Homo sapiens: one gene and its partners. The protein of the gene in region 7 interacts with the protein of the main gene of each other region in a pairwise test. Each region holds a gene or a part of one and is shown on either strand. Other genes may lie near its edges.

Region 1 (3,500 bases), on a different chromosome or scaffold from region 7:
TGAGCTGATTCGTTTTGGCTGCTAGAAGACCAGTGATTTCTTGATCATACATATGGTCACCCTAATGATAGGGACATAAACAGCACTGTTTTCCCAAGACCACTCCATTTTCCTGGTAACTTCTTATCCAGCATCCACAAGGCTATATGGGGAACATCCATATTCTTATAGGACTATGCTCCCCTGCCACAGAGATGGATATTTGACACAAACTAAGCCAGTCAGAATCCTTCTCCAAGATTCTTTTCTTAACTGAAACTAAAACAAGGCATCCATTCCTCTTAGATGGTAGAAGCCACAACATTCTAAGCCTCAGAAGCCGTTAAGGCCCATGTTCCCTACCCATGTGCAGCAAAGCAGCCCATAGTGAAAGAGCGAAACTAATAACCAGGGAGCAGCAGAGGGGAGAGCCCTGGTAGCATCTGATTCTCTTGCTCCCAAAGTCTGAAAGGCCCAGTGATACCAGAGTCCTTCACAGTTTATGTGTTAAACCCTTCCTTCAACCCAGAATCCTTCTAGCAAACTTCCCTTTGCACATGATAGTTTACATTGCGAGTCTGCAGCCATAAGAAGGCCAAGGGAAAGCACATGAGTGGACTCATCTCTGAGCAATGGGCGAGGGAGTGGTACTTTGCAGGGGACTACCTATGCTATGGTGAGGGATGATAAGCCTATAGAAATAGGAATTACTAAAGTTATTCTGGCAGTGGTCACACAAGCTGATGATGTCTGGAGATAGTAAAATAACATGAGTGTGGCTCTCTGGAGCCATAAAATAGAGACCAATCCTTCCTATGGACTTTGAAGCACTTTAATGTAGCTATCAGGTCACTTTGATTAAAAATACTTTAAATTCCTTTATTTTGATCACTGCCTTCTTGATATGTTCCTGTATTTTCTCTTTCAGTTTAGATCCGTGAATCTTTTTCAAAATTTCTTTAATTTTTAATTTTTACTGATATAAATAGCTGTACATATTTACGATGTACATGTGATATTTTGATACAAGCATACAATATGTAATGATCAAATCAGGATATTTGAGATATCCATCACCTTAAACATTATTTCTTTGTGAATCTTAAAGAGAAAGGGGCTGCTTGTGTATGTGTGCATACAGGCATATCCCTGTGCTCACACTACACTCAGACTAAGACCGCATCAGCATCTGTATTTTTTAAAACTATGTATAGGGCTTTTATCCTTTTAAAAAAAATCTCACTTTTTGATTTAATTCACCATTCACACTTTTTAAATATTGCTTTAATAAATGATTCTCTCATCTAAGCATCAATAAACATAATGAACATTGTCTATAAAACCTGCTTCTTTTTTCAGCTTTAATTATGGAATAAAAAGGGGGAGAAACATTTGATTAAGAGATAGTAGCTATAAACTCAGTCATCTAGAATATTGGTCTATATGACTCATAGCTTTTGGATGCAGGAAATATGGGTCAAACTAGAGACCTGACATGATTGTATCATGTCAGCTTGGACAACATGGCAAAACCCCATCTCTACTAAAAATACAAAAAATTAGCCAAGCATGGTTGTGCGTGCCTGTAATCCCAGCTACTCGGGAGGCTGAGGCTCGAGAATTGCTTGAACCCGGGAGGTGGAGGTTGCAGTGAGCCGAGATCACGCCACTGCACTCCAGCCTGGGTGACAGAGTGAGACTCTGTCTCAAAAAAAAAAAAAAAAAAAAAAGAAAGAAAGAAAAAAGTTACTGCATAGTTTATTTTAATGAAAGTCCATGTATGAACATATTTTAAAATGTAAATTCTTGTTGTTAATACATTAACATAAAGACATATACTACTGCCTCCGAGATTGGAATACCCTCAATATTCAACATCAGCTACTGTAACTAGGAACAGCTAACTCCTGACTAAAATGTTGAGGGTATCACTATTAGAGAACCCTACTGCTCACAGAGAAGTTTCACAAACATGATTGTATTTGATTGTATAAGAATCCAGTGAGACGGCCAGGGGCGCTGGCTCATGCCTGTAATCCCAGCACTTTGGGAGGCCAAGGTGGGTGGATCACCTGAGGTCAGGAGTTCGAGACCAACCTGACCAACATGGAGAAACCCTGTCTCTACCAAAAATACAAAATCAGCCGGGCGTGGTGGTGCGTGCCTGTAATTCCAGCTACTCGGGAGGCTGAGGCAGGAGAATCACTTGAACCTGGGAGGCCGAGGTTGCAGTGAACCGAGATTGTGCCATTGCACTTCAGCCTGGGCAACAAGAATGAGACTCCGTCTCAAAAAAAAAAAAAAAAAAAGGAACCAGTGAGACATTGCTAATAGTATTATACTGCTAGCTCTAGTTTTGAAACAGGTAAACTGAGACTGAAAAAGGTTATGAGACTTGTTTAGCTTACACAGCTAGTATGTGGCATGTCTTCAGACTACAAATCCCATGGTCCTTCTGCTAACAGCTGAAATAAACAGTTTGAAGATTCTAGAGAGTTTTAAATAAAACTGACATTTATAAAACTTCAAATTACCTTGCCTAATTGTTCTTGAGCTCTCTGTAGTTCTTGTATTCTCTGCCTCTCCTTTTCTTGCATTTCCAACTCTAGCTGCAATGCCAGCTGTTGCTGAATATTCAGAAATATGTCATATTACAGTTAGATTAATTGCAAGATAATTAAGTTTATACCCACCTTCATTTCAGAAACTTACAATACATGGTCACATCCAACTAATACTTTAGTTTCTACAAATGCTTCCTGAAGCATAAAATTTTTAAAAAAGATTTTAATCTTCCTTAATTGCAAATTATAGAAAGCACAATTTGTACAAAATTATTTTCCCTTTTCTTCTTAAAGTAACAAATGAGATTGCAACAATTTTCCAGATAAATTTCTTTAAGCATAGATGGGTCTTCAAATAGCCACACACTGGTTGTGGAAGAGTGGGTGAGAAACTCTTCAGAATATCATCTGATGGCTCATGCCTGTAATCCCAGCACTTTGAGAAGCCAAGGTAGGCAGATCATCTGAGGTCAGGAGTTTGAGACCAGACTGGCCAACATGGTGAAACCCTGTCTCTACTAAAAATACAAAAATTAGCTGGGCAGGGTGGCACATGCCTGTAATCTCAGCTACTCGGGAGGCTGAGGCAGGAGAATCGCTTGAACCTGGGAGGTGGAGGTTGCAGTGAGCCGAGATTGTGCCATTGCATTCCAGCCTAGGCAACAGAGTAAGACTCCCTCTCAAAAAAAAAAAAAAAAAAGAAAAGAAGAAAAAAGAATATCATCTGAAATCATTACTAACCAACAATATATTTGCTCCCAACTCAGCATATCTGTCACACTAGAATAGGGTTCAGCAATAAAGCCTGTGGGCCAAAGCCAACCCACCTCCTGTTTTTTATAGCTTACAAAGAAAGAATGGCTTTTACATTTTTAAATAGAAAAAATTTAAAAGAAATAATATTTCATGACATAGGAAAACGGTATGAAATGTAAATTTCAGCATCCTTAAAGCTTT
Region 2 (2,324 bases), on a different chromosome or scaffold from region 7:
TTTTGATGGAGATTCCAGGTGAATGAATGAGCATTTCAGGCAGCTGCGTATAACCGAGCCCTAGCTCACATGACTCAGGAACCATCCCTTCATTCAGCACAGTTTCTTGGTCCTCCAAGTTTGCTTTTGAGGGACAGAAAATCAGGTCGGGAGGCCACTGACCATGGTGGCAGTTGCTCCTGTAGTCAAGACTAGCTCCTTGGCCAATGCACACACATGCTCTGAAGCTTAGGCCTTTGTTTCTAGTCAAAAGGTGGGCTGCTCTTGGGCTACAGCATGACAGAGACATGCCGAAGCCCTTTTCCTTTCAGATACGGCGTGGAGATCAGCTCCTCCACCAGCATAATGGGACCCAGCATCCCTGCCAAAACTCGGGAGGTGCTCGTCAGCCACCTGGCATCTTACAACACATGGGCTTTACAAGGCATGTATGGAGTTTCTTGTGGGCTTGGCAGGTGGCTGTGAAGGCCATCAGTGTCTGAAGCCTGTACTTGCCCCTCCCCAGGTCCTGTGAGTGGAGAGGCACAGAGTGTTCTGGGCTAGCTGAGTGTGGAGGCTGGGTGGCTCTGATGCTAGCCAATCACTCTACGCTCTAGGCTCACACCTTTCCACCTTCGACTTCGCCAGCAGAAGTCTTGAGTTCAATCTCATTGCCCTGGCTTGGGTCACATGTCCATCCATGAACCAATCACTAGACTGGGTGCGGAAAGCTCTGATTTGCCAAGTTCGGGTCATGTGTCTCACTAGGTAAGAGCAGAGGAGGATCACCCCCAGGGAAGACCAGAGTGCTCTTTCAGAAGAGTGGGACAATCGCTGGATGGCTCTTTGCACCACTCACTCCTGTTCTCTGCTAGGGCTGCTGGGACTCACAAGGGGTAGGTTGTGGCAGCTGCCCTGTTTTGGGTTCTGACTTGGCTTGTGTCCCTGCAGGGATTGAGTTTGTAGCTGCCCAGCTCAAGTCCATGGTGCTAACCTTGGGCCTGATTGACCTGCGCCTGACAGTGGAGCAGGCCGTGCTGCTGTCACGCCTGGAGGAGGAGTACCAGGTGAGGAGCAGCACCTCAGGTCCCGCCTCCCCCTTCCTAGTTCAGACTCACTTTGGGGGAGCAGCTAACCCATCTGAAATATAGTTATGCATACTTGGCTTTTATTACTTTTATGTACACGCAGAAATCAAAATCAAGGACCAGCAGAAGTATTGTCAAGTAGGCCTGGCATGGTGGTTCACACCTGTAATCCCAGCACTTTGGGTGGCTGAGGAGGATGGATCATTTGAGGTCAGGAGTTTGAGACCAGCCTGGGCAACATGGCAAAACCCTCTCTCTACAAAAATACAAAAATTAGCACCTGTAGTCTCAGCTACTTGGGAAGCTGACGTGGGAGGATTGCTTGAACCTGGGAGGTGGAGGTTGTAGTGAGCCAGGATTGTGCCACTGCATTCTAGCCTGGGTGACAGAGTGAGACCCTGTCTCAAAAAAAAAAAAAAAAAAGGTAAGATAATAACAATAAAAAAATAACAGTAAGTGCTACCGCTGTGTTCCTGCATTGTATCCATCTCACCTCCTCTCAGCAGCCTGGGCAGGTAGGAGCTGTGGTTATCTCTGTTTTACACAGAAGGAAATGGAGGTGCAAGGTTGCACCTCTGGAAAATGTGCCAGCTGGGGTTTGAAGCCAGGTCTGGTGATTTTAGGGCCAAGGCCGTCAGGCCTCACTCTGCACAAGGAGGTTCACGGGTGGATAAAGACCATCTGGGCTTGATAAAGCCTGCAGAACAGGCCCTGCCAAGATGACTGAGAACCCGTTTGTGCTCCTTCATCAGCTGAGCCTTCATACCCTGACATTTTATCTGGCTGGCAGAGGAGCATAGGGGTAGCTGCTGTTTGTATACAAGTTTTGATTTAGTGGGCTCAGAATTAAGGTTTTGCCACAGTATGGTTTGCATTTTTTAACTCTGAAAATTATAGCCATCTTTGCAGTCTTTTTATTGTTATTCCACCAACCTCAGAAGGTTAATTGCTATTATGAATTGGTCCCTAATATGGTAAAAACAAACAAACAAAAAAACACAAAACTTTTTGTGATGTATTTCCCTAGTTCTTGTAGTCTTCTGCTCAGAAAAATGCCAGGGAAAAAACTATTTTTGTATAACAAAGGAGGCCCGCTACTATTCTCTGGATGTCAGAACTGATTACATAGGAAGGGGGTGACTTGTAGGGCTGGTGGGAAGCCAGTCTGGGCTCTGCTTCTGACTATGGGACCCAAGCCAGGCCATCATTCTCTGAACTTTGGTTTCGATCCTCTACAAACAGAGGAATAACCTGAAT
Region 3 (3,500 bases), on a different chromosome or scaffold from region 7:
AAAAAAGGCCTGACATTTTTATTCTGCACCAGTTCTGCTTAAAGCCAAGGGCGTCTACTGTAGGGTTGCTTTAGCATGGTTGTCCTAATGACTGAATGAAAAATGTGGTTGAAAAGGCTGCTTTTAAAATAAGCAATGAACAGATCGATGGTTGAGAGTTGGGCGGGTTGGGGAAGGTGCAGGGTGAGGCAGATTATGGAAGGTGTGAGCTGGCAGACTCAGCGGGCATGGAACAGAGGCCCTGTGATGGCGCTCTGCAGCCTTGGGCAGGGGTGAGGAGGGGAGGGCTTATGCTGTGGGGATGGCAAGAGGCAGCTACCAGTAGGGGATGCACATGTGAGCCTTGAATGAACCTTTGCTGGGCTCCCTTTCCCTTTTTGTCTTCCCTCTCCAAGGCACTACTTACTTTTCAGCTCCCAAAATATGGGGCTCAGAAGTGGTCAATAGTGAGGAAAGGAGTGGTAACTGAAAGAAGTCTAGGGTTCTCTGGGTGGAAAGACTCAGAGGAAACATTCAAACCTTGATAGAAAGGAGATGAAAAATCCATCCTTGCCTATTGTTGTAGCTATAGAACCCCAAAAGCCCTTGGGCTGCAGATGTACCCCCCACAAATCTATTTATGGTCTAATTAAAAAATTAAGTTGAACTTAATCATAACAGTGTCTTCTTCAGATATGCTTATCTTCTCCGTAGGTTTAGTTGACATATTTGAAATGTTTTAAGACTAAATGAGCCGGGTGCAGTGGCTCATGCCTGTAATCCCAGCACTTTGGGAGGCCTAGGCGGGTGGATCACCTGAGGTCAGGAGTTTGAGACCAGCCTGGCCAACATGGCGAAACCTCGTTTCTACTAAAAATACAAAAATTAGCTGTGCGTGGTACTGCATGCTTGTAATCCCAGCTACTAGGGAGGCTGAGGCAGGAGAATTGCTTGAACCCCGGGGGTGGAGGTTGCAGTGAGCTGAGATTGTGCCACTGCACTCCAACCTGGGTGACAGGGCGAGACTCCTCAAAAAAATAAATAAATAAAAATAAAAAAAAGACTAAATGAAAATGTCACATTAAAATGACTATACATTTTTCTAATTCTGGAAACCCAATGTCTTCAGAGTTCTCTTTTAAAAACCTCAAGGCCAGGTGCAGTGGCTCACACCTGTAATCCCAGCATTTTGGGAGGCCAAGGCAGGAGGATCACTTGAGCCCAGGAGTTCGAAACTAGCCTGGGCAACATAGAAAGACTCTGTCTCTACAAAAAAATTAACAACAAAAAAAATTAGCTGGGTGTGGTGGTGCACACCTGTAGTCCCAGCCGCTTGGGAGGCTGAGGTGAGGGGATCACTTGAGCCTGGGAAGTCGAGGATGTAATGAGCTAAGATCATGCCAGTGCACTCCAGCCTGGGTGACAGAGCAAGACCCACTCTCTAAAATATATATAGATATGTATATATGAAATTAAAAACTCAAAAGATAAAAACCTCTTGATTCCTCTGACTGCCACCCACTAAGGAGAAAATTCCCTTTTAAAAGCTGGAAGGTAATTATATCTCAGCCCAGAGTAGAGTGGTGCTGACTTTTCTCTTTATGGAAAATATTTACCTTCTTTGCTAATATAACTAAAGGCTACAACTTTCCATAAATTCATCATAAAATTGTGTTTCATGACTCATCATTATCTAGCCCCTTTTGCCTCGAAGATGGTTTTGGTTGTAACTGGTATCTCCCCAGTCTCTCAAAATATGAACAGATGTTTGTTGCTTCTGTTCCCTTCTCCTCCCTACCTGTAATGATTAAAAAGGTATTCTCTGAGAGTTTTCTCATCTCAGTGTGAACTTAGTCATAACAGTAACTTCTTAGTCATAACAGTATCTTCTTAGTCATAACAGTATCTTCTTCAGATATGCTTATCGGTCAATTTTTCCATATTTATATTTTAAATTTTACTCTTAAAAAATGAAGTTCTTGCTACATACCAAATGCTTTAACAGATTATTGTGTGTAATCCTTACAACCACCTTTATGACATTGGTATTATTAGTCCCATTTTCAGTTCATGAGACTCAAGTTTTTTGAGCTAATAATTTGCCTAAAGACATATCACTTTGTTAAATGTCTCTGGTTCAGCCTGTGCTGGTTCAGAGCTCACACTAGGGATGTAGCCTGGCTGTTGGAATTTGACTCCTAGCCCTGCCATCTCCTGGCCAGGTAACCTTGAGCAAGTTACTTAACTTCTTTGTTCCTCAGATTCCACATCTATAATGTAACAATACCTACTATGTAGGTTTGTTGTGAAGTTTAAATGAGGAATTATATGGAAGACATTTAAAATAGTGTCCAGCATAAATATTGCATAATAAATATCACTATTATTGGTTTCCAAATATTCTCCTAATGTTATGGCCCATCCTGCTGTATGTCACTGAACCCAAGTATCTCTGAATAACTCCATCAAGTGCTGACAGCCAGAACTGTCAATTCCAGCTTATCAGATGATAGCATACATAATTATTCAAGTCATGAACAGCAGAGGCAGACTAAGAAAACTTTGAAAACTAAGATAGTAAACAGACGTGAGAACCAAATGCAATATGTGATCCCTGACTGGATCCTGAACCAGAAACTATTTTTCTTCTTTTGCCACAGAAGACATTTGTGGGTAAAAAATGAAGGTCTGTACCTTGATAATAGTATCGTATTAATGTTAACTTCTTGATTCGCAATCACTTTCTGTGGTGACTGTAGATAATATCAGTGTTTTTAGGAAATATACACTGAAGTATTGAGAGATAAAGGGGAATTACATCTATAACATACTGTTAAATATTATAAATAATTAAATTCATATGTACAGAAAGACAGAAGAAAGGATGATTAACATGGTAAAATATTAACATTTGGCAAATATAGGTAAAGGGCTTGTGGAAAGTATTTTTTTAAACTTTTCTATAAGTCTGAAATTATTTCAAAATGGAATGATAAAAATATTAATCAGTAGAAAGAACAGAAAGAGTACTAGATTTGGAGTTGGAAGAATTGAGTTTTATTCTAGCCACTATTTCCTAGTGCTCTTAGGCAAATCATTTAGACTCTCTGAGCCTGTCTCCTAATCTAAAAATTGAAGATAATAAAACCTACCTCATTGGATTTAGTGGGCATGTAAGTTTCTGGGTGAATTTATAAAGTTGTAGCACATTATACAAATAATACTTTTTTAAAAAGGACATATGGCCCCATGTTCCCACTCTGAAACTAGTAGCCCAGGATGGGCTCTGCTACAAATCAGCTACAGTAAAGCTTCAGGGATGGGTTTTCTCAGTTATGAATGCCAAGCAAGCAGAGGGGAAAAACTCAGGTGACCTTGACACTTCCTCTTAGAAATTCATTTTGTGGCTCCCAGAGAAGAAAAGATTTTGACAGGGAACAGTCTATCCTTAAAAAAAAAAAAAAAAGATTTCAAATAAAAGAAATTGTAGATATAAAGACCAGTTCTCAAGATTGGTGATT
Region 4 (3,500 bases), on a different chromosome or scaffold from region 7:
GGCTACCTGGTAAATGTAAAGGGAGTGCTGGAGTTGGAAAAATCATCACGTTGTAACCATAATGATAAAGATTAAATCAGGCAAAAATAATCAATGGATGCTAAATCTAGGGGAAAATGTTGATGTAAAACAGGCTGTTTGTATGTTCTTAAATCGTCTCCCCATAGATTACTTATTAATGACAAAGGAGAATTTAAATAATGTACCAGGTAAGCAAAATTAACATTACTAGTGAGAAACAAAAGGACATTGTGTGCCTGCATATGTGACATATTGAGAACACACCACCACCTATGCAAGTAATCCCACCAAGAATGCGCAACCTCAATCTAATCACAAGGAAACATCTGAAAAATACACAATGAGCAATGTTCTGTTAAAGGTAAAAGCAGCGGGGGAAGCAGAAGGGAACTGTATTTTAAAAAAATATCAATGTTATAAAAGAAAAAGAAAGATTATGGAAATATCCCAGTTTAAGCTAAAGAAACTTGACTACTAAACACAAAACCTGACCCTAGACTGGAACCTGTTTTGGAAGGGAAAAATGTTATAAAGAAATGACATTCAGTCAACATATAGATGACAGATTAAAGCACTGTTAATGAAAAATTATGAAATTGATGACTACACTATGGTTATATAAGAAAATATTCTTTGACATACACACTGAAATATCCTGGGGGTAAAGGGCTACAATGTATATAATTTATCCTCACATGATTAAAACAAAATTTTGTGTGTGTCTGGGTGTACACATGCAAGTGTGTGTGTGTGTGTGTGTGTGTGTGTGACAGAGAGAGAGAGAGAGAGAGAGAAAGACTGAGCATGCAAAAGTATAAGAAAGACTGAGCATATAAGTGCATATGCAAATGGAGAAATGGAATAAAATGTGTTAACAATAGGTGAATCTGGGTAAAGAGTGTTGGGATGTTCTTTGTATTATTTTTATGTTTGTAACTTTTTGTGTATTTGAAATTATTTCCAAAAAAAGTTAAAAAAACAAAAACAAACACAAAACCTTTGTCCTACGTAATAGTGGTTATCCCAAGAAATAAGCACTGTTATTTTTACATTTTTGTTTATACATTTCTGTATTCTCTGAAAAGAGAATAATGAGCACATATTAATTTTAAAATAAAGAAAAAAAAGAAAAGAATAGCATAGTATGTACAGCCCACTATCCTTTTATACAGTAGCGCCAAAACAATGGATGATATTCACTGCTTTCTACTAGCTTGCTACCACAAACACAGAGCTTCAAAAGTTGCAACTGAATCTGATCTCTTTGAAAATTTCTGAATTCAATTAATTCCCAGGAGAGTATTTCTCCATTTGGTTTTAGTGTGTCTGGAATCCTTTTTAAAAAGTGTAAGTCATAAAAGAGTTTAAGACGTAAAAGAAATACAGATATCTTTCAGATGCTGGGAATGCTGGGAACTTTTAACCCAAAGCAGCTCCCACAACCATGACCACTGCTCAGCTTTAGTGGTACTTCAACCAGCTCATGGCTATCTTGTCCTTAATTCCTTTCAAATCTCTCTAATGAACGGATTCATTTCAGTTTGCCCATCAGGTTAGTTTCTGTCTTAGAGGAGAAAGAATTCAAGTTGTTCTTGCTTTATTTTCAATAGTAGGTTAATTTGCCAGAACTCTAGTTAAAAAAAGTATTAAAGCAGTAACATTTTTTCTTAAAAATCTTATGTGAACTGCAGAATTGTGTCAAGTGACTTTTTCTCATTTAATTCACGACTTTTCATTTAACTCAGTGGAATACATTTTATTGACAGATTTCTTAATACTGAACCACTTAAAACAATCTTATGTGAACTCAGCGTATAAAAAGTGGTGTTGCTTTGGTTGAGGGGAGTCCTAGACTCCTTCCCTGCTCACACCCCTCTAGCAAATAGTTTAAAAATCACTAGGCTAGAGAAAATTGCTATGATGGACCCTGCTATTCTGGTCTCCTAGGCACTGTGACAAAACTGCAGAATCAACTGTCCATCCTCTTTGCTTTTCTTATATAAGTTATTTCTGAGATATAATCAAAACCAAACAAAGAGTCAGGAATAGGAACAATTACCTGTTTTTCCTCAGGAGGCAGTTTACTCCATTCATTGCCTAACATCCTTGTGATTTCTGGAAATGGGACTTCTGGTCTCTTTGCTCGAAGTTGTTCTCGACGCTCATTCATGAACCGAACATATCCTGTAAGGGGGGATTTGGGTGCATTGCTGTCTCGAAGAGGTTTCTTCCTCTTTCTTCCTTTGGACCAACCTCCTCGTTTACTTCGTTGCTACAAAACAAAACAAAATAAAAAACCAAAAACCAAACAACAACCATCTCCCAAAATAACCCAACAACAACAAAAACAAACAACAACAAACAAAACAGGATTAAGAGTTGCAATTTGGCCCTGGATATTCAAAGCTCTCCACATCTGTTGTAGGTAATATACAAATGACAGCAATGCAATTTTTGAGGAACTCCAGATGCTTCACTTGCAACCTCTTTTATGTATCACACTACAAAATGTTACACTAAAGGGCTATTTTTGTGCTAATCTCAATGTATGAGAATAAGAGGTGCCATGATCACTCAGCTTTGACCTTCATATGCATATGACTGTCCCACAGACAACTGTCAGGTCCTGATTCCTGACAGGAGAGTATCCAAATGGGAAATACAGCAGCACATGCAGCATTGTGGCAGGGAGGCAGACATTGTCAGATTAGAGTAAGATGGTGTCACGTGCACCAGGCAAAAGAAGAAACAAGTTGTAGCAGAAATTAAAAATAACTCACAATGGGAGTTGCTCATTGATAACTTTCAAAGACTAGCTTATTTCCCATAGCAGATAGCAGATAGCATAGCATAGCAGATAGATACTAAATTAATATCTAAGTCTCAGAAAAATTTTAGTAAGTATAATATATCTGAAATGAAGACGAGCTCTTTGGCTTGACAATTTGTTCCTTTAGATGTACATTTTATTTTAATTTTTTTTTTGAGGTAGAGTTTTGCTCTTCTTGCCCAGGCTGTAGTGCAATGGCGCTATCTCGGCTCACCGCAACCTCCGCCTCCCAGGTTCAAGTGATTCTCCTGCCTTAGTCTTCCAAGTAGCTGGGATTACAGGCATGTGCCACCACACCCAGCTAATTTTTGTATTTTCAGTAGAGATGGGGTTTTGCCATGTTGATCAGGCTGGTCTCGAACTCCTGACCTCAGGTGATCCACCAGCCTCAGCCTCCCAAAGTGCTGGGATTATAGGCGTGATCCACTGCACCCGGCCTAGATGTACATTTTATAGTCAGAGGTCTTTATATGTTGAGTTACCAGGTAAATCAAAAGATTGAATCACCTCTGAAAAAAACTAAAGAAATGAAAAGGACTGAGGTACCACTGATGTTTCACCACAGCCTTTCTTCTTGGCCCTTTAAATAAGATGTAAGGTACATAATATTTTTACTTCATAATTTTACAAATACAGCCGTATCAGTTAA
Region 5 (3,500 bases), on a different chromosome or scaffold from region 7:
TCTCCCTTAAATTTCCTGACAACACAGTCTCTCTTGGTTTTTTATAAACACATTCATTCATTCATTCACCATTAATTCATACAACAAATATTTACTGAGTACCTACTAAGTGCTCAGAGCCAAATACTAAAGATACAGTGGTAAACAAGGTAGACAAGGTGCATTAAACAAACTGAACACATCAAACAAATATTAACAATTGTGATAAGTCCTTCAGAGAAGTACAGAGGTTCTGGGAGTACTAAATAAGGGAGCTGATCAAGCCTGAGAGAGGGGTCAAGAGAAGACAGTTCCATTAGCACTTCAGTTAGGGCCTAAAGGAAGGAGTCAGCTAAGCCATGGGGTAGAGGTAAAGGCCAACAGTATGTGTAACATCTCTGTAGAGACAGAGAGAGGAAGATGAGTGGACAAAAGCAATAAGGAGGACTAACAATGAGGTAGGAAAAAACTAGACTGGAGTGTCACAGAAGTTAAGGTCTCCCACTGGCCAAATGCAACAACTGAAACATATTTATTAAAGCCCATGCATTCAAAATGGTAATTTTATAAAGTAAAGATCAAATTTTTTTTAAATCCTAACTCCTTGGATACCATTAGAAATAATGAGACCGCCAACTCCTTTTTACAAAAATTGTCCATTAAAAAGAAAAAAAATTATCTTGCCTTTACTATACAAACTGTACATCAGGGTGATCAAGCAGTCTTGGAGGATGAAGAAAAAGTTCCTTTTACAGAAGAAATTTCAGTGTGATAGGGAGGAAATTAGAAAATCACCATTTTGCAACTCCTAATAAGATAACTGATTGAGGCAATGATCATCAAGGAATGAAACCATTAGGTTAAAGTAGTAAGATAAAGATACGCTGTCACCATCTGAACCTACTGATCAATCTTAGCATCACCAAAAGTGAGATAGCCTCTCAACGTGACGTGATATGAAGCACACAGCACCACTTGCAAAATGTTCTTACCAAAAAAGCAAACGTCAAGTCCCTAAAGCAAACTTTATTTACCACAATTATGAGAGATAAAGTTAAATAATATTACAAGGAAGCAGAAGAAAAATACAGAATGGGGGGCATTTAACAAGACAACTGGAAAATTCATGAGGGAAAAAACAGAATGGGGAATTCTCTACACTAAAAAGAACTTAAGGGACATGACAAGAAAATGAATGTGTGGTCCTTGTTTGGATCATGATTCAAACAAACCAAATAAGAAAACGCTTTTGAGACAAATAGGGAACTCTGGTTATAGATGGGGTATTAGATAGTACCAAGGAATTATTGTGGGTTGGAATGAGGTACACATTTTTAAAGAGAGAAGTATAGTAAAGTAAGCATGAAATGACACGCTTGGGATTTGCTCTCAAATACATCAGTGATTTAAAAAAAGGAAAAAGGAGATGGACAATAACAAGTTCTGACTTTTGATGACTCCAGCTGGTAGGGTTCACATCACTTCTTTTTTTCTTTGTTAGCATTTTTCATAAAGAACAGTAAGTGTTCACTGGATTTACTGAGATGATTAATGACCTTAACTTATTTGATAAAATAAAGAAAACAGAAACCAGATTGGCGAATAGTTTGTAAAGGGGAGGAGAGTGGTAGCTGAAGTGAAATGTGGGATTAAAGTAGTTTTGTTGTTGTTGTTATTACTGTTTCAAGAAAAAATAAACTTTGAGTTACTTAAATGTGGATGAGAAGGTGAAGACTGGGGAACGGAGTACAGCTAGAATAATCAACAGCACATGCGCCCTGAAAAGGCAGGAGGTTATAAGATCCTGAGTCAGGTAAAAAGAGGAAAAGGTGGATAGAGGGAGAAAAAAAATAGATTTGGTGGAGGGAAGTTGAAGGAATTGCAATAAGGGATTTTATTTTCTCTTTGGTTTTTTTTTTTTTTTTTTGAGACAGAGTCTTGCTCTGTCACCCAGGCTGGAGTCCAGTGGTGCGATCTCAGCTCACTGCAACCTCTGCCTATGGGGTTCAAGCAATTCTCATGTCTCAGCCTCCCGAGTAACTGGGACTACAGGTGTGCACTACCACGCCCATCTAATTTTTGTATTTTTAGTGGAGATGGGTTTCACCATGTTGGCCAGGCTGGTCTCTGACCTCAGGTGATCCGCCCACCTCAGCCTCCCAAAGTGCTGGGATTACAGATGTGAGCCACTGCGCTCAGCCCTTTTTTGTCTTGGAAGTAGCAGTCAAGGCCATCTGCTAAAAGTAAGAACAGATAAATTTGAGATTTGAAGAGAATAAAGGTTTAAAATTACTGCTATAGAAAGCAGGAGAATAAGTTGAAAGTAGAAATTTCACAGGATTACCAGGCAACATTGAGACCTGAGGTTGGTGATCAAGAATTTAGAGAGGTATTATCCCCTCTTCCATAATGTGTGATCTTTCTCAAGCAATATCTACACAGACAGTTGGGCTTACAAAGGCTTGGGGTTTTTTCAGGCAAATGTGACACAAAAACAAGGAAGTTTAGCATATTGGCAAGAGATATAGAAATGGAAGGCCATGGAATCTAAGCTAGTTAGAGTAGTGAAGACAGAAAGAGCTAACAGAGCAGAAAGTATCAGTTGTCGAAAGATCCAACAGTCTTCTGAAGGATCCTCGATAATCCATGCTTTGGCTTGGAAAGGACTTCTGGCGGTTGTCACAAAGTCAAATGTGACTTTTCCCCTTGATTCACAGGTATTGCCAACTGAGATAGGAATAGCTGTGATTAGTAAAAGGGAGCTAATAAGTATGAGGAATACATGGACGGGCATCTCTATACTGAGATAGGACAAGCAGTGGTCCTAACAATGCTGCTCGCTAATTTATGGTCAAAATCCTACTTGGCTTGGGGATAGGAGATGGCAGCATTTAAGTGTTAGTGTTTCTAAGAGTTTTGTTCTAGTACTCTCCTCTTACTCTGGAATCAGGTCTCCTAAATTACATCATCCATATCTACCACTTTAAATACTACTTACGTTCTGATGGCTTTCATAAATATATACAACTACCCAAGGGACACCTCAAACTCATTATCTACCCACAAACATCTGCTCTTGCTTTAGTATTCTGGATCTTAGTGAAGAGCAAGGGATCCTTCAGTTACGCCACCCAGAAGCCCAAGATACCTTTATCCAGTCATTCGCTTTTATTGATTCTACAAGTTAAATCTCTCTCAAATTCACATCCTGTTTTTTCTCTCCATTCTTAACTGTCACTGCCTTAATTCAGGTCTTCACTATATCTTGCTCAGATTTTGGCAACAGCTTCACCAGATCTCTGCCTCCATTCCAACCCACCTATAATCTATCTTTGTATTTCTCTAAGAGATACTTCTAAAAATCTGATTATTTTCCTGTCTACTTAATCCTACAACAGTTTAGAATTGCTTAAAGGACAGCTCCTTAGTAAAACATATAAGGCACGCTAATAATCCAATTCATATCTATCTCTCCAACTCTCACTACTGACCCTGAGGTCATTTATGCATTAAAAAAACTG
Region 6 (3,500 bases), on a different chromosome or scaffold from region 7:
CGTCATGGCAGGCACCTGTAATCCCAGCTACTCGGGAGGCTGAGGCAGGGAAGAATCGCTTGAACCAAGGAAATGGAGGCTGCAGTGAGCTGAGATGGTGCCACTGCACTCCAGCCCGGGCAACTGAGCGAGACTCCGTCTCAAAAAAAAAAAAAGATTTCAAAATCAGGATGCATCATGAAAAACTTGCCATTTCCTATACATCTGGTGCCCATTCCTAAGTGTACAATTAGCCAGTGATAATCACATCTCTATTTTATTTTTGAGACAGTCTTGCTCTGTCACCCAGGCTGGAGTGCAGTGGTGTGATAGCTCACTGCAACCTCTGCCTCCCAGGTTCAAGCAATTCTTGTGCCTCAGCCTCCCGAGTAGCTGGGACTACAGGCACCAGCCACCACACCCCACTAATTTTTGAATTTTTGTGGAGACGGGGTTTCACCATGTTGGCCAGGCTGGTCTCAAACTCCTGACCTCAGGTGATCCGCCCACCTCGGCCTCCCAAAGTGTTGGGATTACAGGTGTGAGCCACCACGCCCAGCCTACATCTCATTTTAAAACAGCGAACTTCCCTCCCAAAGTTTGAACTGACCTTCCTTCACAGAGGCTGTCCGTCGCCTTGTTCTTTTTCTCCCTTTGTGATCTTCTTCTAGTATCTTATCATCAAAGCCAGTCAGTTCGATGGTTTCAGACTGACTTGTGGGTCCAGCAGAGAACCACTCTGGTTCTTCTTCTGTGTAAGAATCATTTCTTCTACGCTCACCAAAGACACGCTTACTATCTCCAAACTCTCTCTGGAAAAGTACATAAAGCAAGATTAAAAAATTTCTAGTCAAGCCATTTCTACTTCAGTCAAGGTCTTCGTTGTAATGTTCAATAGTGAAAGGAAGATATGATGCTGTATACCTGAGGCCCATCACCACCCCCACCCCTTCCTCCCTGACTGGTTTAAGAGCAGGCTGTGTTCATGCCTGTTCTCAAAGTAACCTGGTATAAAAAAAGTGAATATCAAGTCCCCAAGCACATGAACTACCAAAGAATCTAGAAGACAAACCCAGGTCGGGTGTGGTGGCTCACGCCTGTAATCCCAGCACTTTGGGAGGCCGAGGCAGGCCGATCACCTAAGGTTGGGAGCTTGAGAGACCAGCCTGACTAACATGGAGAAACCCCGTCTCTACTAAAAATATAAAAAGTTAGCCGGGTATGGTGGTGCGTGCCTATAATCCCAGATACTGGGCTGAGGCAGCAGTGAGTCAAGATCGTGCCATTGCACTCCAGCCTGGGCAACAAGAGCGAAACTCCGTCTCAATTTAAAAAAAAAAAAAAAAAAAAAAGACAAACCCTGAAACGCTTGTCCTTGAAGTCCCTCTCTCGGTCTCTGTCTCTCAAGTCCCGCAGGTCCTTATCGCTAAGACGGTGATCCTTCTCAAAGGTCCGGGCAGAGATTATCCTCCCACTGCCAATCCTACGTCCACCAAGCAGACGAAGCCCATCACTATCTTTCTCTAATGGACTTCCTGAGCGCCGGGAGCTAACAGCGGCTGTCACGTGGCAGCCCCCTCCAAAGCTCCGTCTCTGAGGGCTGAGAACAACATCTAAGTCATCTTCTTTCACACGCTCTCGTGGATCTGGAAGGACGTGGGAAAGACAAAGTTAAACAAACCAACAAGGGTGTTTTCTTCTTTTTTAGATAGTATGTCCATGACTGATGGGAGGAAGGGGATGGTTGGAAGAGAGTCACCACTAAAATTGGGCTTATCAGCAGATTCAGGGTAACATGTACATTATGTATTTAAATAAGGCTGAGACATTGGCCTTCCTCTTTGCAGCAATAGAAGTACGTCACGATAAATAATTTTCCATGATTAGTCTTTGCAGTGCCTTTATTTTGACCAAATCCTTATCTAAGAATTATTAGCAAATGTTTTGTCAACTAATAAACTACAGCAGGCGTATTTGAAAAAATAACTGCTTAAAAAGTTAAAGTGTCTCTTCAACAAAATGGTGTTGAACGGTTAGATATCCACAGACAAAGAAATGAACTTAAATCTATATTTGGGGCCGGGCATGGTGGCTCACGCCTATAATCCAGTACTTTGGGACGTCAAGGCAGGTGGATCACGAGGTTAGGAGTTCAAGACCAGCCTGGCCAAGATGGTGAAACCCCGTCTCTACTAAAACTACAAAAATTAGCCAGGCATTGTGGCAGGTGCCTGTAATCCCAGTTACTTGGGAGGCTGAGGCAGGAGAATCGCTTGAACCTGGAGGCAGAGGTTGCAGTAGCAGAAGTCACCCCGCTACACTGTAGCCTGGGCAAAAGACTAAGATTCAGTCTCAAAAAAAAAAAAAAAAAAAAAAAAATATATATATATATATATATATATATAAACAGATATATACAAAAATTAATTCAAAATGGATCACAGATCTAAATGTAAAACCTAAAACTAAAAATTTCTAGAACAAAATATAGGAGGAAATCCTTGTGGCACTGGGTTAGGCAAAGTTTTCTTAGGCATGACACCAAAAGCATGATCCATTTAAAAAACACTGATAGACTGGGCTTGATCAAAATTTAAAACTTCTACTCTTTGAAAGACACTGTTTAGAGAATGCAAAGACAAGCCACAGACTGAGACAAAATATTTCAAAGCATTTTTCTGATAAAGGACTTAAATTCAGAACACATAAAATCTCTTAATAAACCAACCCAGTGGCTCACGCCTGTAATCCCAGCACTTTGGGAGGCTGAGGTAGGTGGATCACCTGAGGTTAGGAGTTCGAGACTAGCCTGACCAACATGGTGAAACCTCGTCTCTACTAAAAATACAAAATTAGCCAGGCGTGGTGGTAGGCACCTGTAATCCCAGCTACTTGGGAGGCTGAGGCAGGAGAATCGCTTAAACCTGGGAAGTGGAGGTTGCAGTGAGCTGAGACTGCACCACTGCACTGTAGCCTGGGCACCAAGAGCCAGACTCTGTCTCAAAAAAAAAAAAAAAAAACCAACACAATTGAAAAATAGACAAATGGTTTGAACAGACACTTCACCAAAGAGGTTATGTGGAAGGCAAATAAGCATATGAAAAGATACTCAACATAATTAGTCATTAGGGAAATGCAAATTAAACCATGTGATACTACTACACGCCTATTACAATGGCTAAAATTTAAATGACCATTCCAAGTGCAGATGAGGATGTTGGAGCAAGTGCAACTCTCATACACCACTGGTGGAAACGTAAAATGGTACAACTACTTTGGAAAACAGTTTGGCAATTTCCCAGAAGGTTAAACATACATCTGCTATACAACCCAGCCATTTTAATCCTAGGTTTTTACCCAAGAGAAAAGAAAGCTTATGTCCAGAGACTTGTACATGAATGTTCATTGCAGCTTTGGTTATTTAACAGTCAAAAACTGGAAACAACCCAAATGTACATCAACAGATAAACGGATCAACTGCTAAATCCATACAATGGAATACTATTAAGCAATGAAAATAA
Region 7 (3,500 bases):
TGCTCTATGGAAATTCTACCAAAATGCTTCCTGGAGGAGGAAAGACTCATCTCTTGCCACTTTTCTGGAATGCGTCCATGGACGTCAGAGTGTTCCGGGGTTCTAATTTGTTCACAGTTCTTTTCTTCCAGAATATAAAAGATGTAATACTTTTGGGACCACTAAATTAATAAACTCTGAAATCAACTGCACCAAGACCTCTAGGTTTGTTTTTAATAGACTAAATTTAAATGGCAATTTTAAAAACTGAAAAGCTTTCCTCATATTTCTAGAGTCAACACTGGAGGTTGACAATTAAAGGTGAGACAACAGGAAACCACACGCCCCATCACAGGTACAACCTGTGGCTCTTAGTATTGACCTTCAGTTGATGTGACTGTTAATATATTACAAGACTATGCAGCAGCGCTGTAAACACGTGCCCATCAAAGACCCTTGCTTGGGTAAGAAAGGCATGAAAGGGACTCTCACGACACCTTAATGTCTGGCCAAACACTGGGATGTTTCAATGATGAACCTGAGCAGGCACTGCTGAGCCATCTGACAGTGCCCCGGGCACTTACTGTTAACAGAGCCCTGTAAAACTGCCTGGCGGCTGGGATCAGAAGCCTCAGCATCCCTTGTTCTCTGTACTTATGGTACCCATGAAGTCAGTTCCAAGCAATTTTTGGATGTCCGTAAGGCTGAGAAAAGAAAGAAAACATAAGAGTGATCAGATCAGCAGTATCTGCAGCATGAGGAATTAACCTTGTTTTAACTACAAGCTAAAAGAACAATATAAATGGCTGTTTCATTTCCAGCTGAAAAAATCTGACCCTAAGCCATAAATGAGGCACTTGATATCTTTTTGGTTTTGAGTACTAGCCCTAAGAAACACTTTCACATATGATCTGTGAAACCCTGACCCTGACACTCTCACTGATCCACGGCCAAGTGGGTTTAGGAAATGCTGTTCCCTGTGACTGTGACAGTCAGTGTTTGAGGGCGAGTGGCCTATGGCAAACGCAGCACCTGCTCTAATTATGTTTCACTCAGTTTCCCAGTGTCATCTGACCACAAGGGAGCCAGCCCTCATTCTGCAGCATGTGTCCTGGGGAATGCACTCTAGGCACCGGGTGGCCAGGGTGGCCCTAGGTAAAGGAGGGCAGAGGGGACAAGCCAGCAGTGGAGGTGCTTCAGTCATCAGCTTCCTCAGGGCAGGGAAGGCAGCATTTGCTTCTCTGTGCTCCCCATGGTGCTGTGCAGACAGGTCCGGGAACAAAGACACTGAGAGGCAGAGAAACAGATACACACACGGGAGGGAGGGGAGGAAGAGGACACCCACAGGAGGGAGGGAGGGGAGGTGAGGAGGAGGACTGGTCTCTTGTTCATCGGGCTTCACTGTCTCAACAGTTGAGGCCTAGATCTACTGCTCTGACCCCTCTCAGCAGCTGTGGCCACAGCTCTTCTTAGATTGACCAAAGAGGGTGGACAGGCATGCAGCTTAGTAGGCAAGGCCAGAGCAAAATCACTTCAAGGTTTGAGGCCCAACCAAGGACTGGAACAGCCCCTGTGTCAGGGCTCCCTGCTGGTCAGGGAAGAGAGAAATACAAGAGAAGAGAAACAAGGAATAACCCGGACGGCCGGAGAGCAGACCCCGGCGCGGGGCGATGAGCAGGCCCAGGGGAGCAGGGGCCGGGCAGAGTCTGTCTTGCCGGTGTTGGCCTATATCCTGGCAGACTTCCTACCTTAGGCCGGTAGCCCTGCTCAGCCATAGTCTCCGCCTCCTGCTGCAGCAGGGCATCTGAGAGCTGCTCGACCCGCCGGGCCTCCTCCTCTTCCTCCTCCTCCTGCTGGTCTGCTTCCCATGCCTGCAGCCGGCGCTCTGCAACCTGAGTGCCAAGAGCAAAGTCACCACCCCAAGACAAGGCCCACAGGGCAGAGCCCTGCCTCTGATGAGGAAGGTAAGCCTGCGGCCCTACCCAGACTGGAGAATCCAGCTGAGCAACAGCAATGCACGTGCCAAGGAACGGAAGGGAGCATGCGGGACTTGAAAGGCTGTATGCATGGTGTGTACCTCATAGAAAGCTGGAGAGGCTGTATGCGTGGCGCTTACCTCGTGGAAAGCTGGAGAGGCTGTATGCGTGGCGTGTACCTCGTGGAAAGCTGGAGAGGCTGTATGCATTGTGTGTACCTGGTAGAAAGCTGGAGAGGCTGTATGCATGGCATGTACCTCGTAGAAAGCTGGAGAGGCTGTATGCGTGGCGTGTACCTCATGGAAAGCTGGAGAGGCTATACATATGCGTGGCGTGTACCTCGTGAAAAGCTCGGCCTGTGGCCAGGTGTTTGGAGGACTGTTCTGTCTTATGTATCAGGGACTGAAATGAAGAGAGATCTATGGCCCCCGGTAAGCCAACTGCTTGCAGAAGCAGACAGAGTAAAGAGAACAGACAGCAGTACCGGCCTCACCCACACGACATGGAGGATGTGGAGGGAAAGAAGCCACAGTCAAGAGGATGAGGACTGCAGCTGGGATGGAAACGGGAGCACCGTGCTCTCAAACGTGCGCAAGCCCTGCCAGGCAGTCCAGCGGCTCTGAACCCTGTCCCATGATGATGCAGAGAACCTGGCAGGCCCGGTGCCTCCCGCCCTTGGGCTCAGCCCTACCTGGGCTTCCAGCTCCTGCTTCCTGGCCGATTTCAGCTTTTCACTCTCCTCTTTCTCGCGACGAGCCAACTCTCTCACCTCCTCAAGATTTCGAATAAGTTGCTCCCTGTGTTTCAGGGATTCCTCTTGTGCCCGTCGGTTCTGCTCAATCTTCTCTTGTATTTGCTGTTGTCTCCCTGTCAGAACCTAACCTCAGCAGAAAGAAAAGGGCAGCTTTGAGGTTGACCCTAACAGATCCTGGTTCTACAAGCCTTGGACAGGCTGCAGCCACAGCAAGGCCCAGCCTCATCCTTGGGCCTCAGGCCCAGGTACGCAGAGGCAGAGCCAGATGACAGGATTTGCTCTCACGATGTCGGCCACGCTTGCCAGTATACAAGAAATGTTTCCCTCGCAACCCAAGACACACAAAATGTATCCAGACTGTGTACTATGGAGAGACAGCTGAGTGCCAAAGAAATCAAAGGAGATGGGGATGGAGCTGTCTCCCCGGGGCCAGAGAAACCTTGGAGCAACAAGGTGAGTCTCCTTCCTATCAGCGGGTTCCAAAAACAAGAGAGCCACAAGCCACACAGATGACCAGAGGTGGAGCTGGGGTGGTCCTCTAACCTTTTGAACCTGCTGTGTTTGAGACCTGGCCCCAGAGCCGTGTGACATCTGAACTCCAGCCCAGGCCACAGTCAGGAGCAGAAAACCACCTGACACTCTCAACAGTTAGGCTGCAGGGCTGGGGGGAACAGAAAGTGGCCGCCATCAGGAGGGAAATTTAAATGAGGAAAATCAAAAGGCACTGGAGAATTCTTGGTATTTACAAGAGCAAAACATCACCAATCACGACCCAATTTCCTGTGGATTCC

What was found.
Region 1: the proteins of TCHP (region 7) and DYDC1 interact in binary tests that used the Homo sapiens proteins (3 or more experiments, as listed by UniProt).
Region 2: the proteins of TCHP (region 7) and ATPAF2 interact in binary tests that used the Homo sapiens proteins (3 or more experiments, as listed by UniProt).
Region 3: the proteins of TCHP (region 7) and NME7 interact in binary tests that used the Homo sapiens proteins (3 or more experiments, as listed by UniProt).
Region 4: the proteins of TCHP (region 7) and HMG20A interact in binary tests that used the Homo sapiens proteins (3 or more experiments, as listed by UniProt).
Region 5: the proteins of TCHP (region 7) and NUP54 interact in binary tests that used the Homo sapiens proteins (3 or more experiments, as listed by UniProt).
Region 6: the proteins of TCHP (region 7) and EIF4ENIF1 interact in binary tests that used the Homo sapiens proteins (3 or more experiments, as listed by UniProt).

What each region holds. Positions count from the first base shown.
Region 1 is NC_000010.11:80,339,756-80,343,255, forward strand, and holds part of DYDC1 (DPY30 domain-containing protein 1), read right to left. Parts: intron 2,607-3,500; coding exon 2,514-2,606; intron 1-2,513. UniProt on the Homo sapiens protein: Functions as part of axonemal radial spoke complexes that play an important part in the motility of sperm and cilia. Plays a crucial role during acrosome biogenesis.
Region 2 is NC_000017.11:18,019,845-18,022,168, reverse strand, and holds part of ATPAF2 (ATP synthase mitochondrial F1 complex assembly factor 2), read left to right. Parts: intron 1-311; coding exon 312-424; intron 425-505; exon of another isoform or gene 506-747; intron 748-930; coding exon 931-1,046; intron 1,047-1,170; coding exon of another isoform or gene 1,171-1,209; exon of another isoform or gene 1,210-1,529; intron 1,530-2,324. UniProt on the Homo sapiens protein: Plays a role in the assembly of the F1 component of the mitochondrial ATP synthase (ATPase).
Region 3 is NC_000001.11:169,137,298-169,140,797, forward strand, and holds part of NME7 (nucleoside diphosphate kinase homolog 7), read right to left. Parts: intron 1-3,500. UniProt on the Homo sapiens protein: Possesses an intrinsic kinase activity. Displays 3'-5' exonuclease activity with a preference for single-stranded DNA. Does not seem to have nucleoside diphosphate kinase activity.
Region 4 is NC_000015.10:77,465,888-77,469,387, reverse strand, and holds part of HMG20A (high mobility group protein 20A), read right to left. Parts: intron 2,294-3,500; coding exon 2,081-2,293; intron 1-2,080. UniProt on the Homo sapiens protein: Plays a role in neuronal differentiation as chromatin-associated protein. Acts as inhibitor of HMG20B. Overcomes the repressive effects of the neuronal silencer REST and induces the activation of neuronal-specific genes.
Region 5 is NC_000004.12:76,138,398-76,141,897, forward strand, and holds part of NUP54 (nucleoporin p54), read right to left. Parts: intron 1-3,500. UniProt on the Homo sapiens protein: Component of the nuclear pore complex, a complex required for the trafficking across the nuclear membrane.
Region 6 is NC_000022.11:31,462,343-31,465,842, forward strand, and holds part of EIF4ENIF1 (eukaryotic translation initiation factor 4E transporter), read right to left. Parts: intron 1,626-3,500; coding exon 1,339-1,625; intron 792-1,338; coding exon 590-791; intron 1-589. UniProt on the Homo sapiens protein: EIF4E-binding protein that regulates translation and stability of mRNAs in processing bodies (P-bodies). Plays a key role in P-bodies to coordinate the storage of translationally inactive mRNAs in the cytoplasm and prevent their degradation.
Region 7 is NC_000012.12:109,913,774-109,917,273, reverse strand, and holds part of TCHP (trichoplein keratin filament-binding protein), read right to left. Parts: intron 2,833-3,500; coding exon 2,647-2,832; intron 1,872-2,646; coding exon 1,728-1,871; intron 684-1,727; coding exon 651-683; 3' UTR 1-650. UniProt on the Homo sapiens protein: Tumor suppressor which has the ability to inhibit cell growth and be pro-apoptotic during cell stress. Inhibits cell growth in bladder and prostate cancer cells by a down-regulation of HSPB1 by inhibiting its phosphorylation.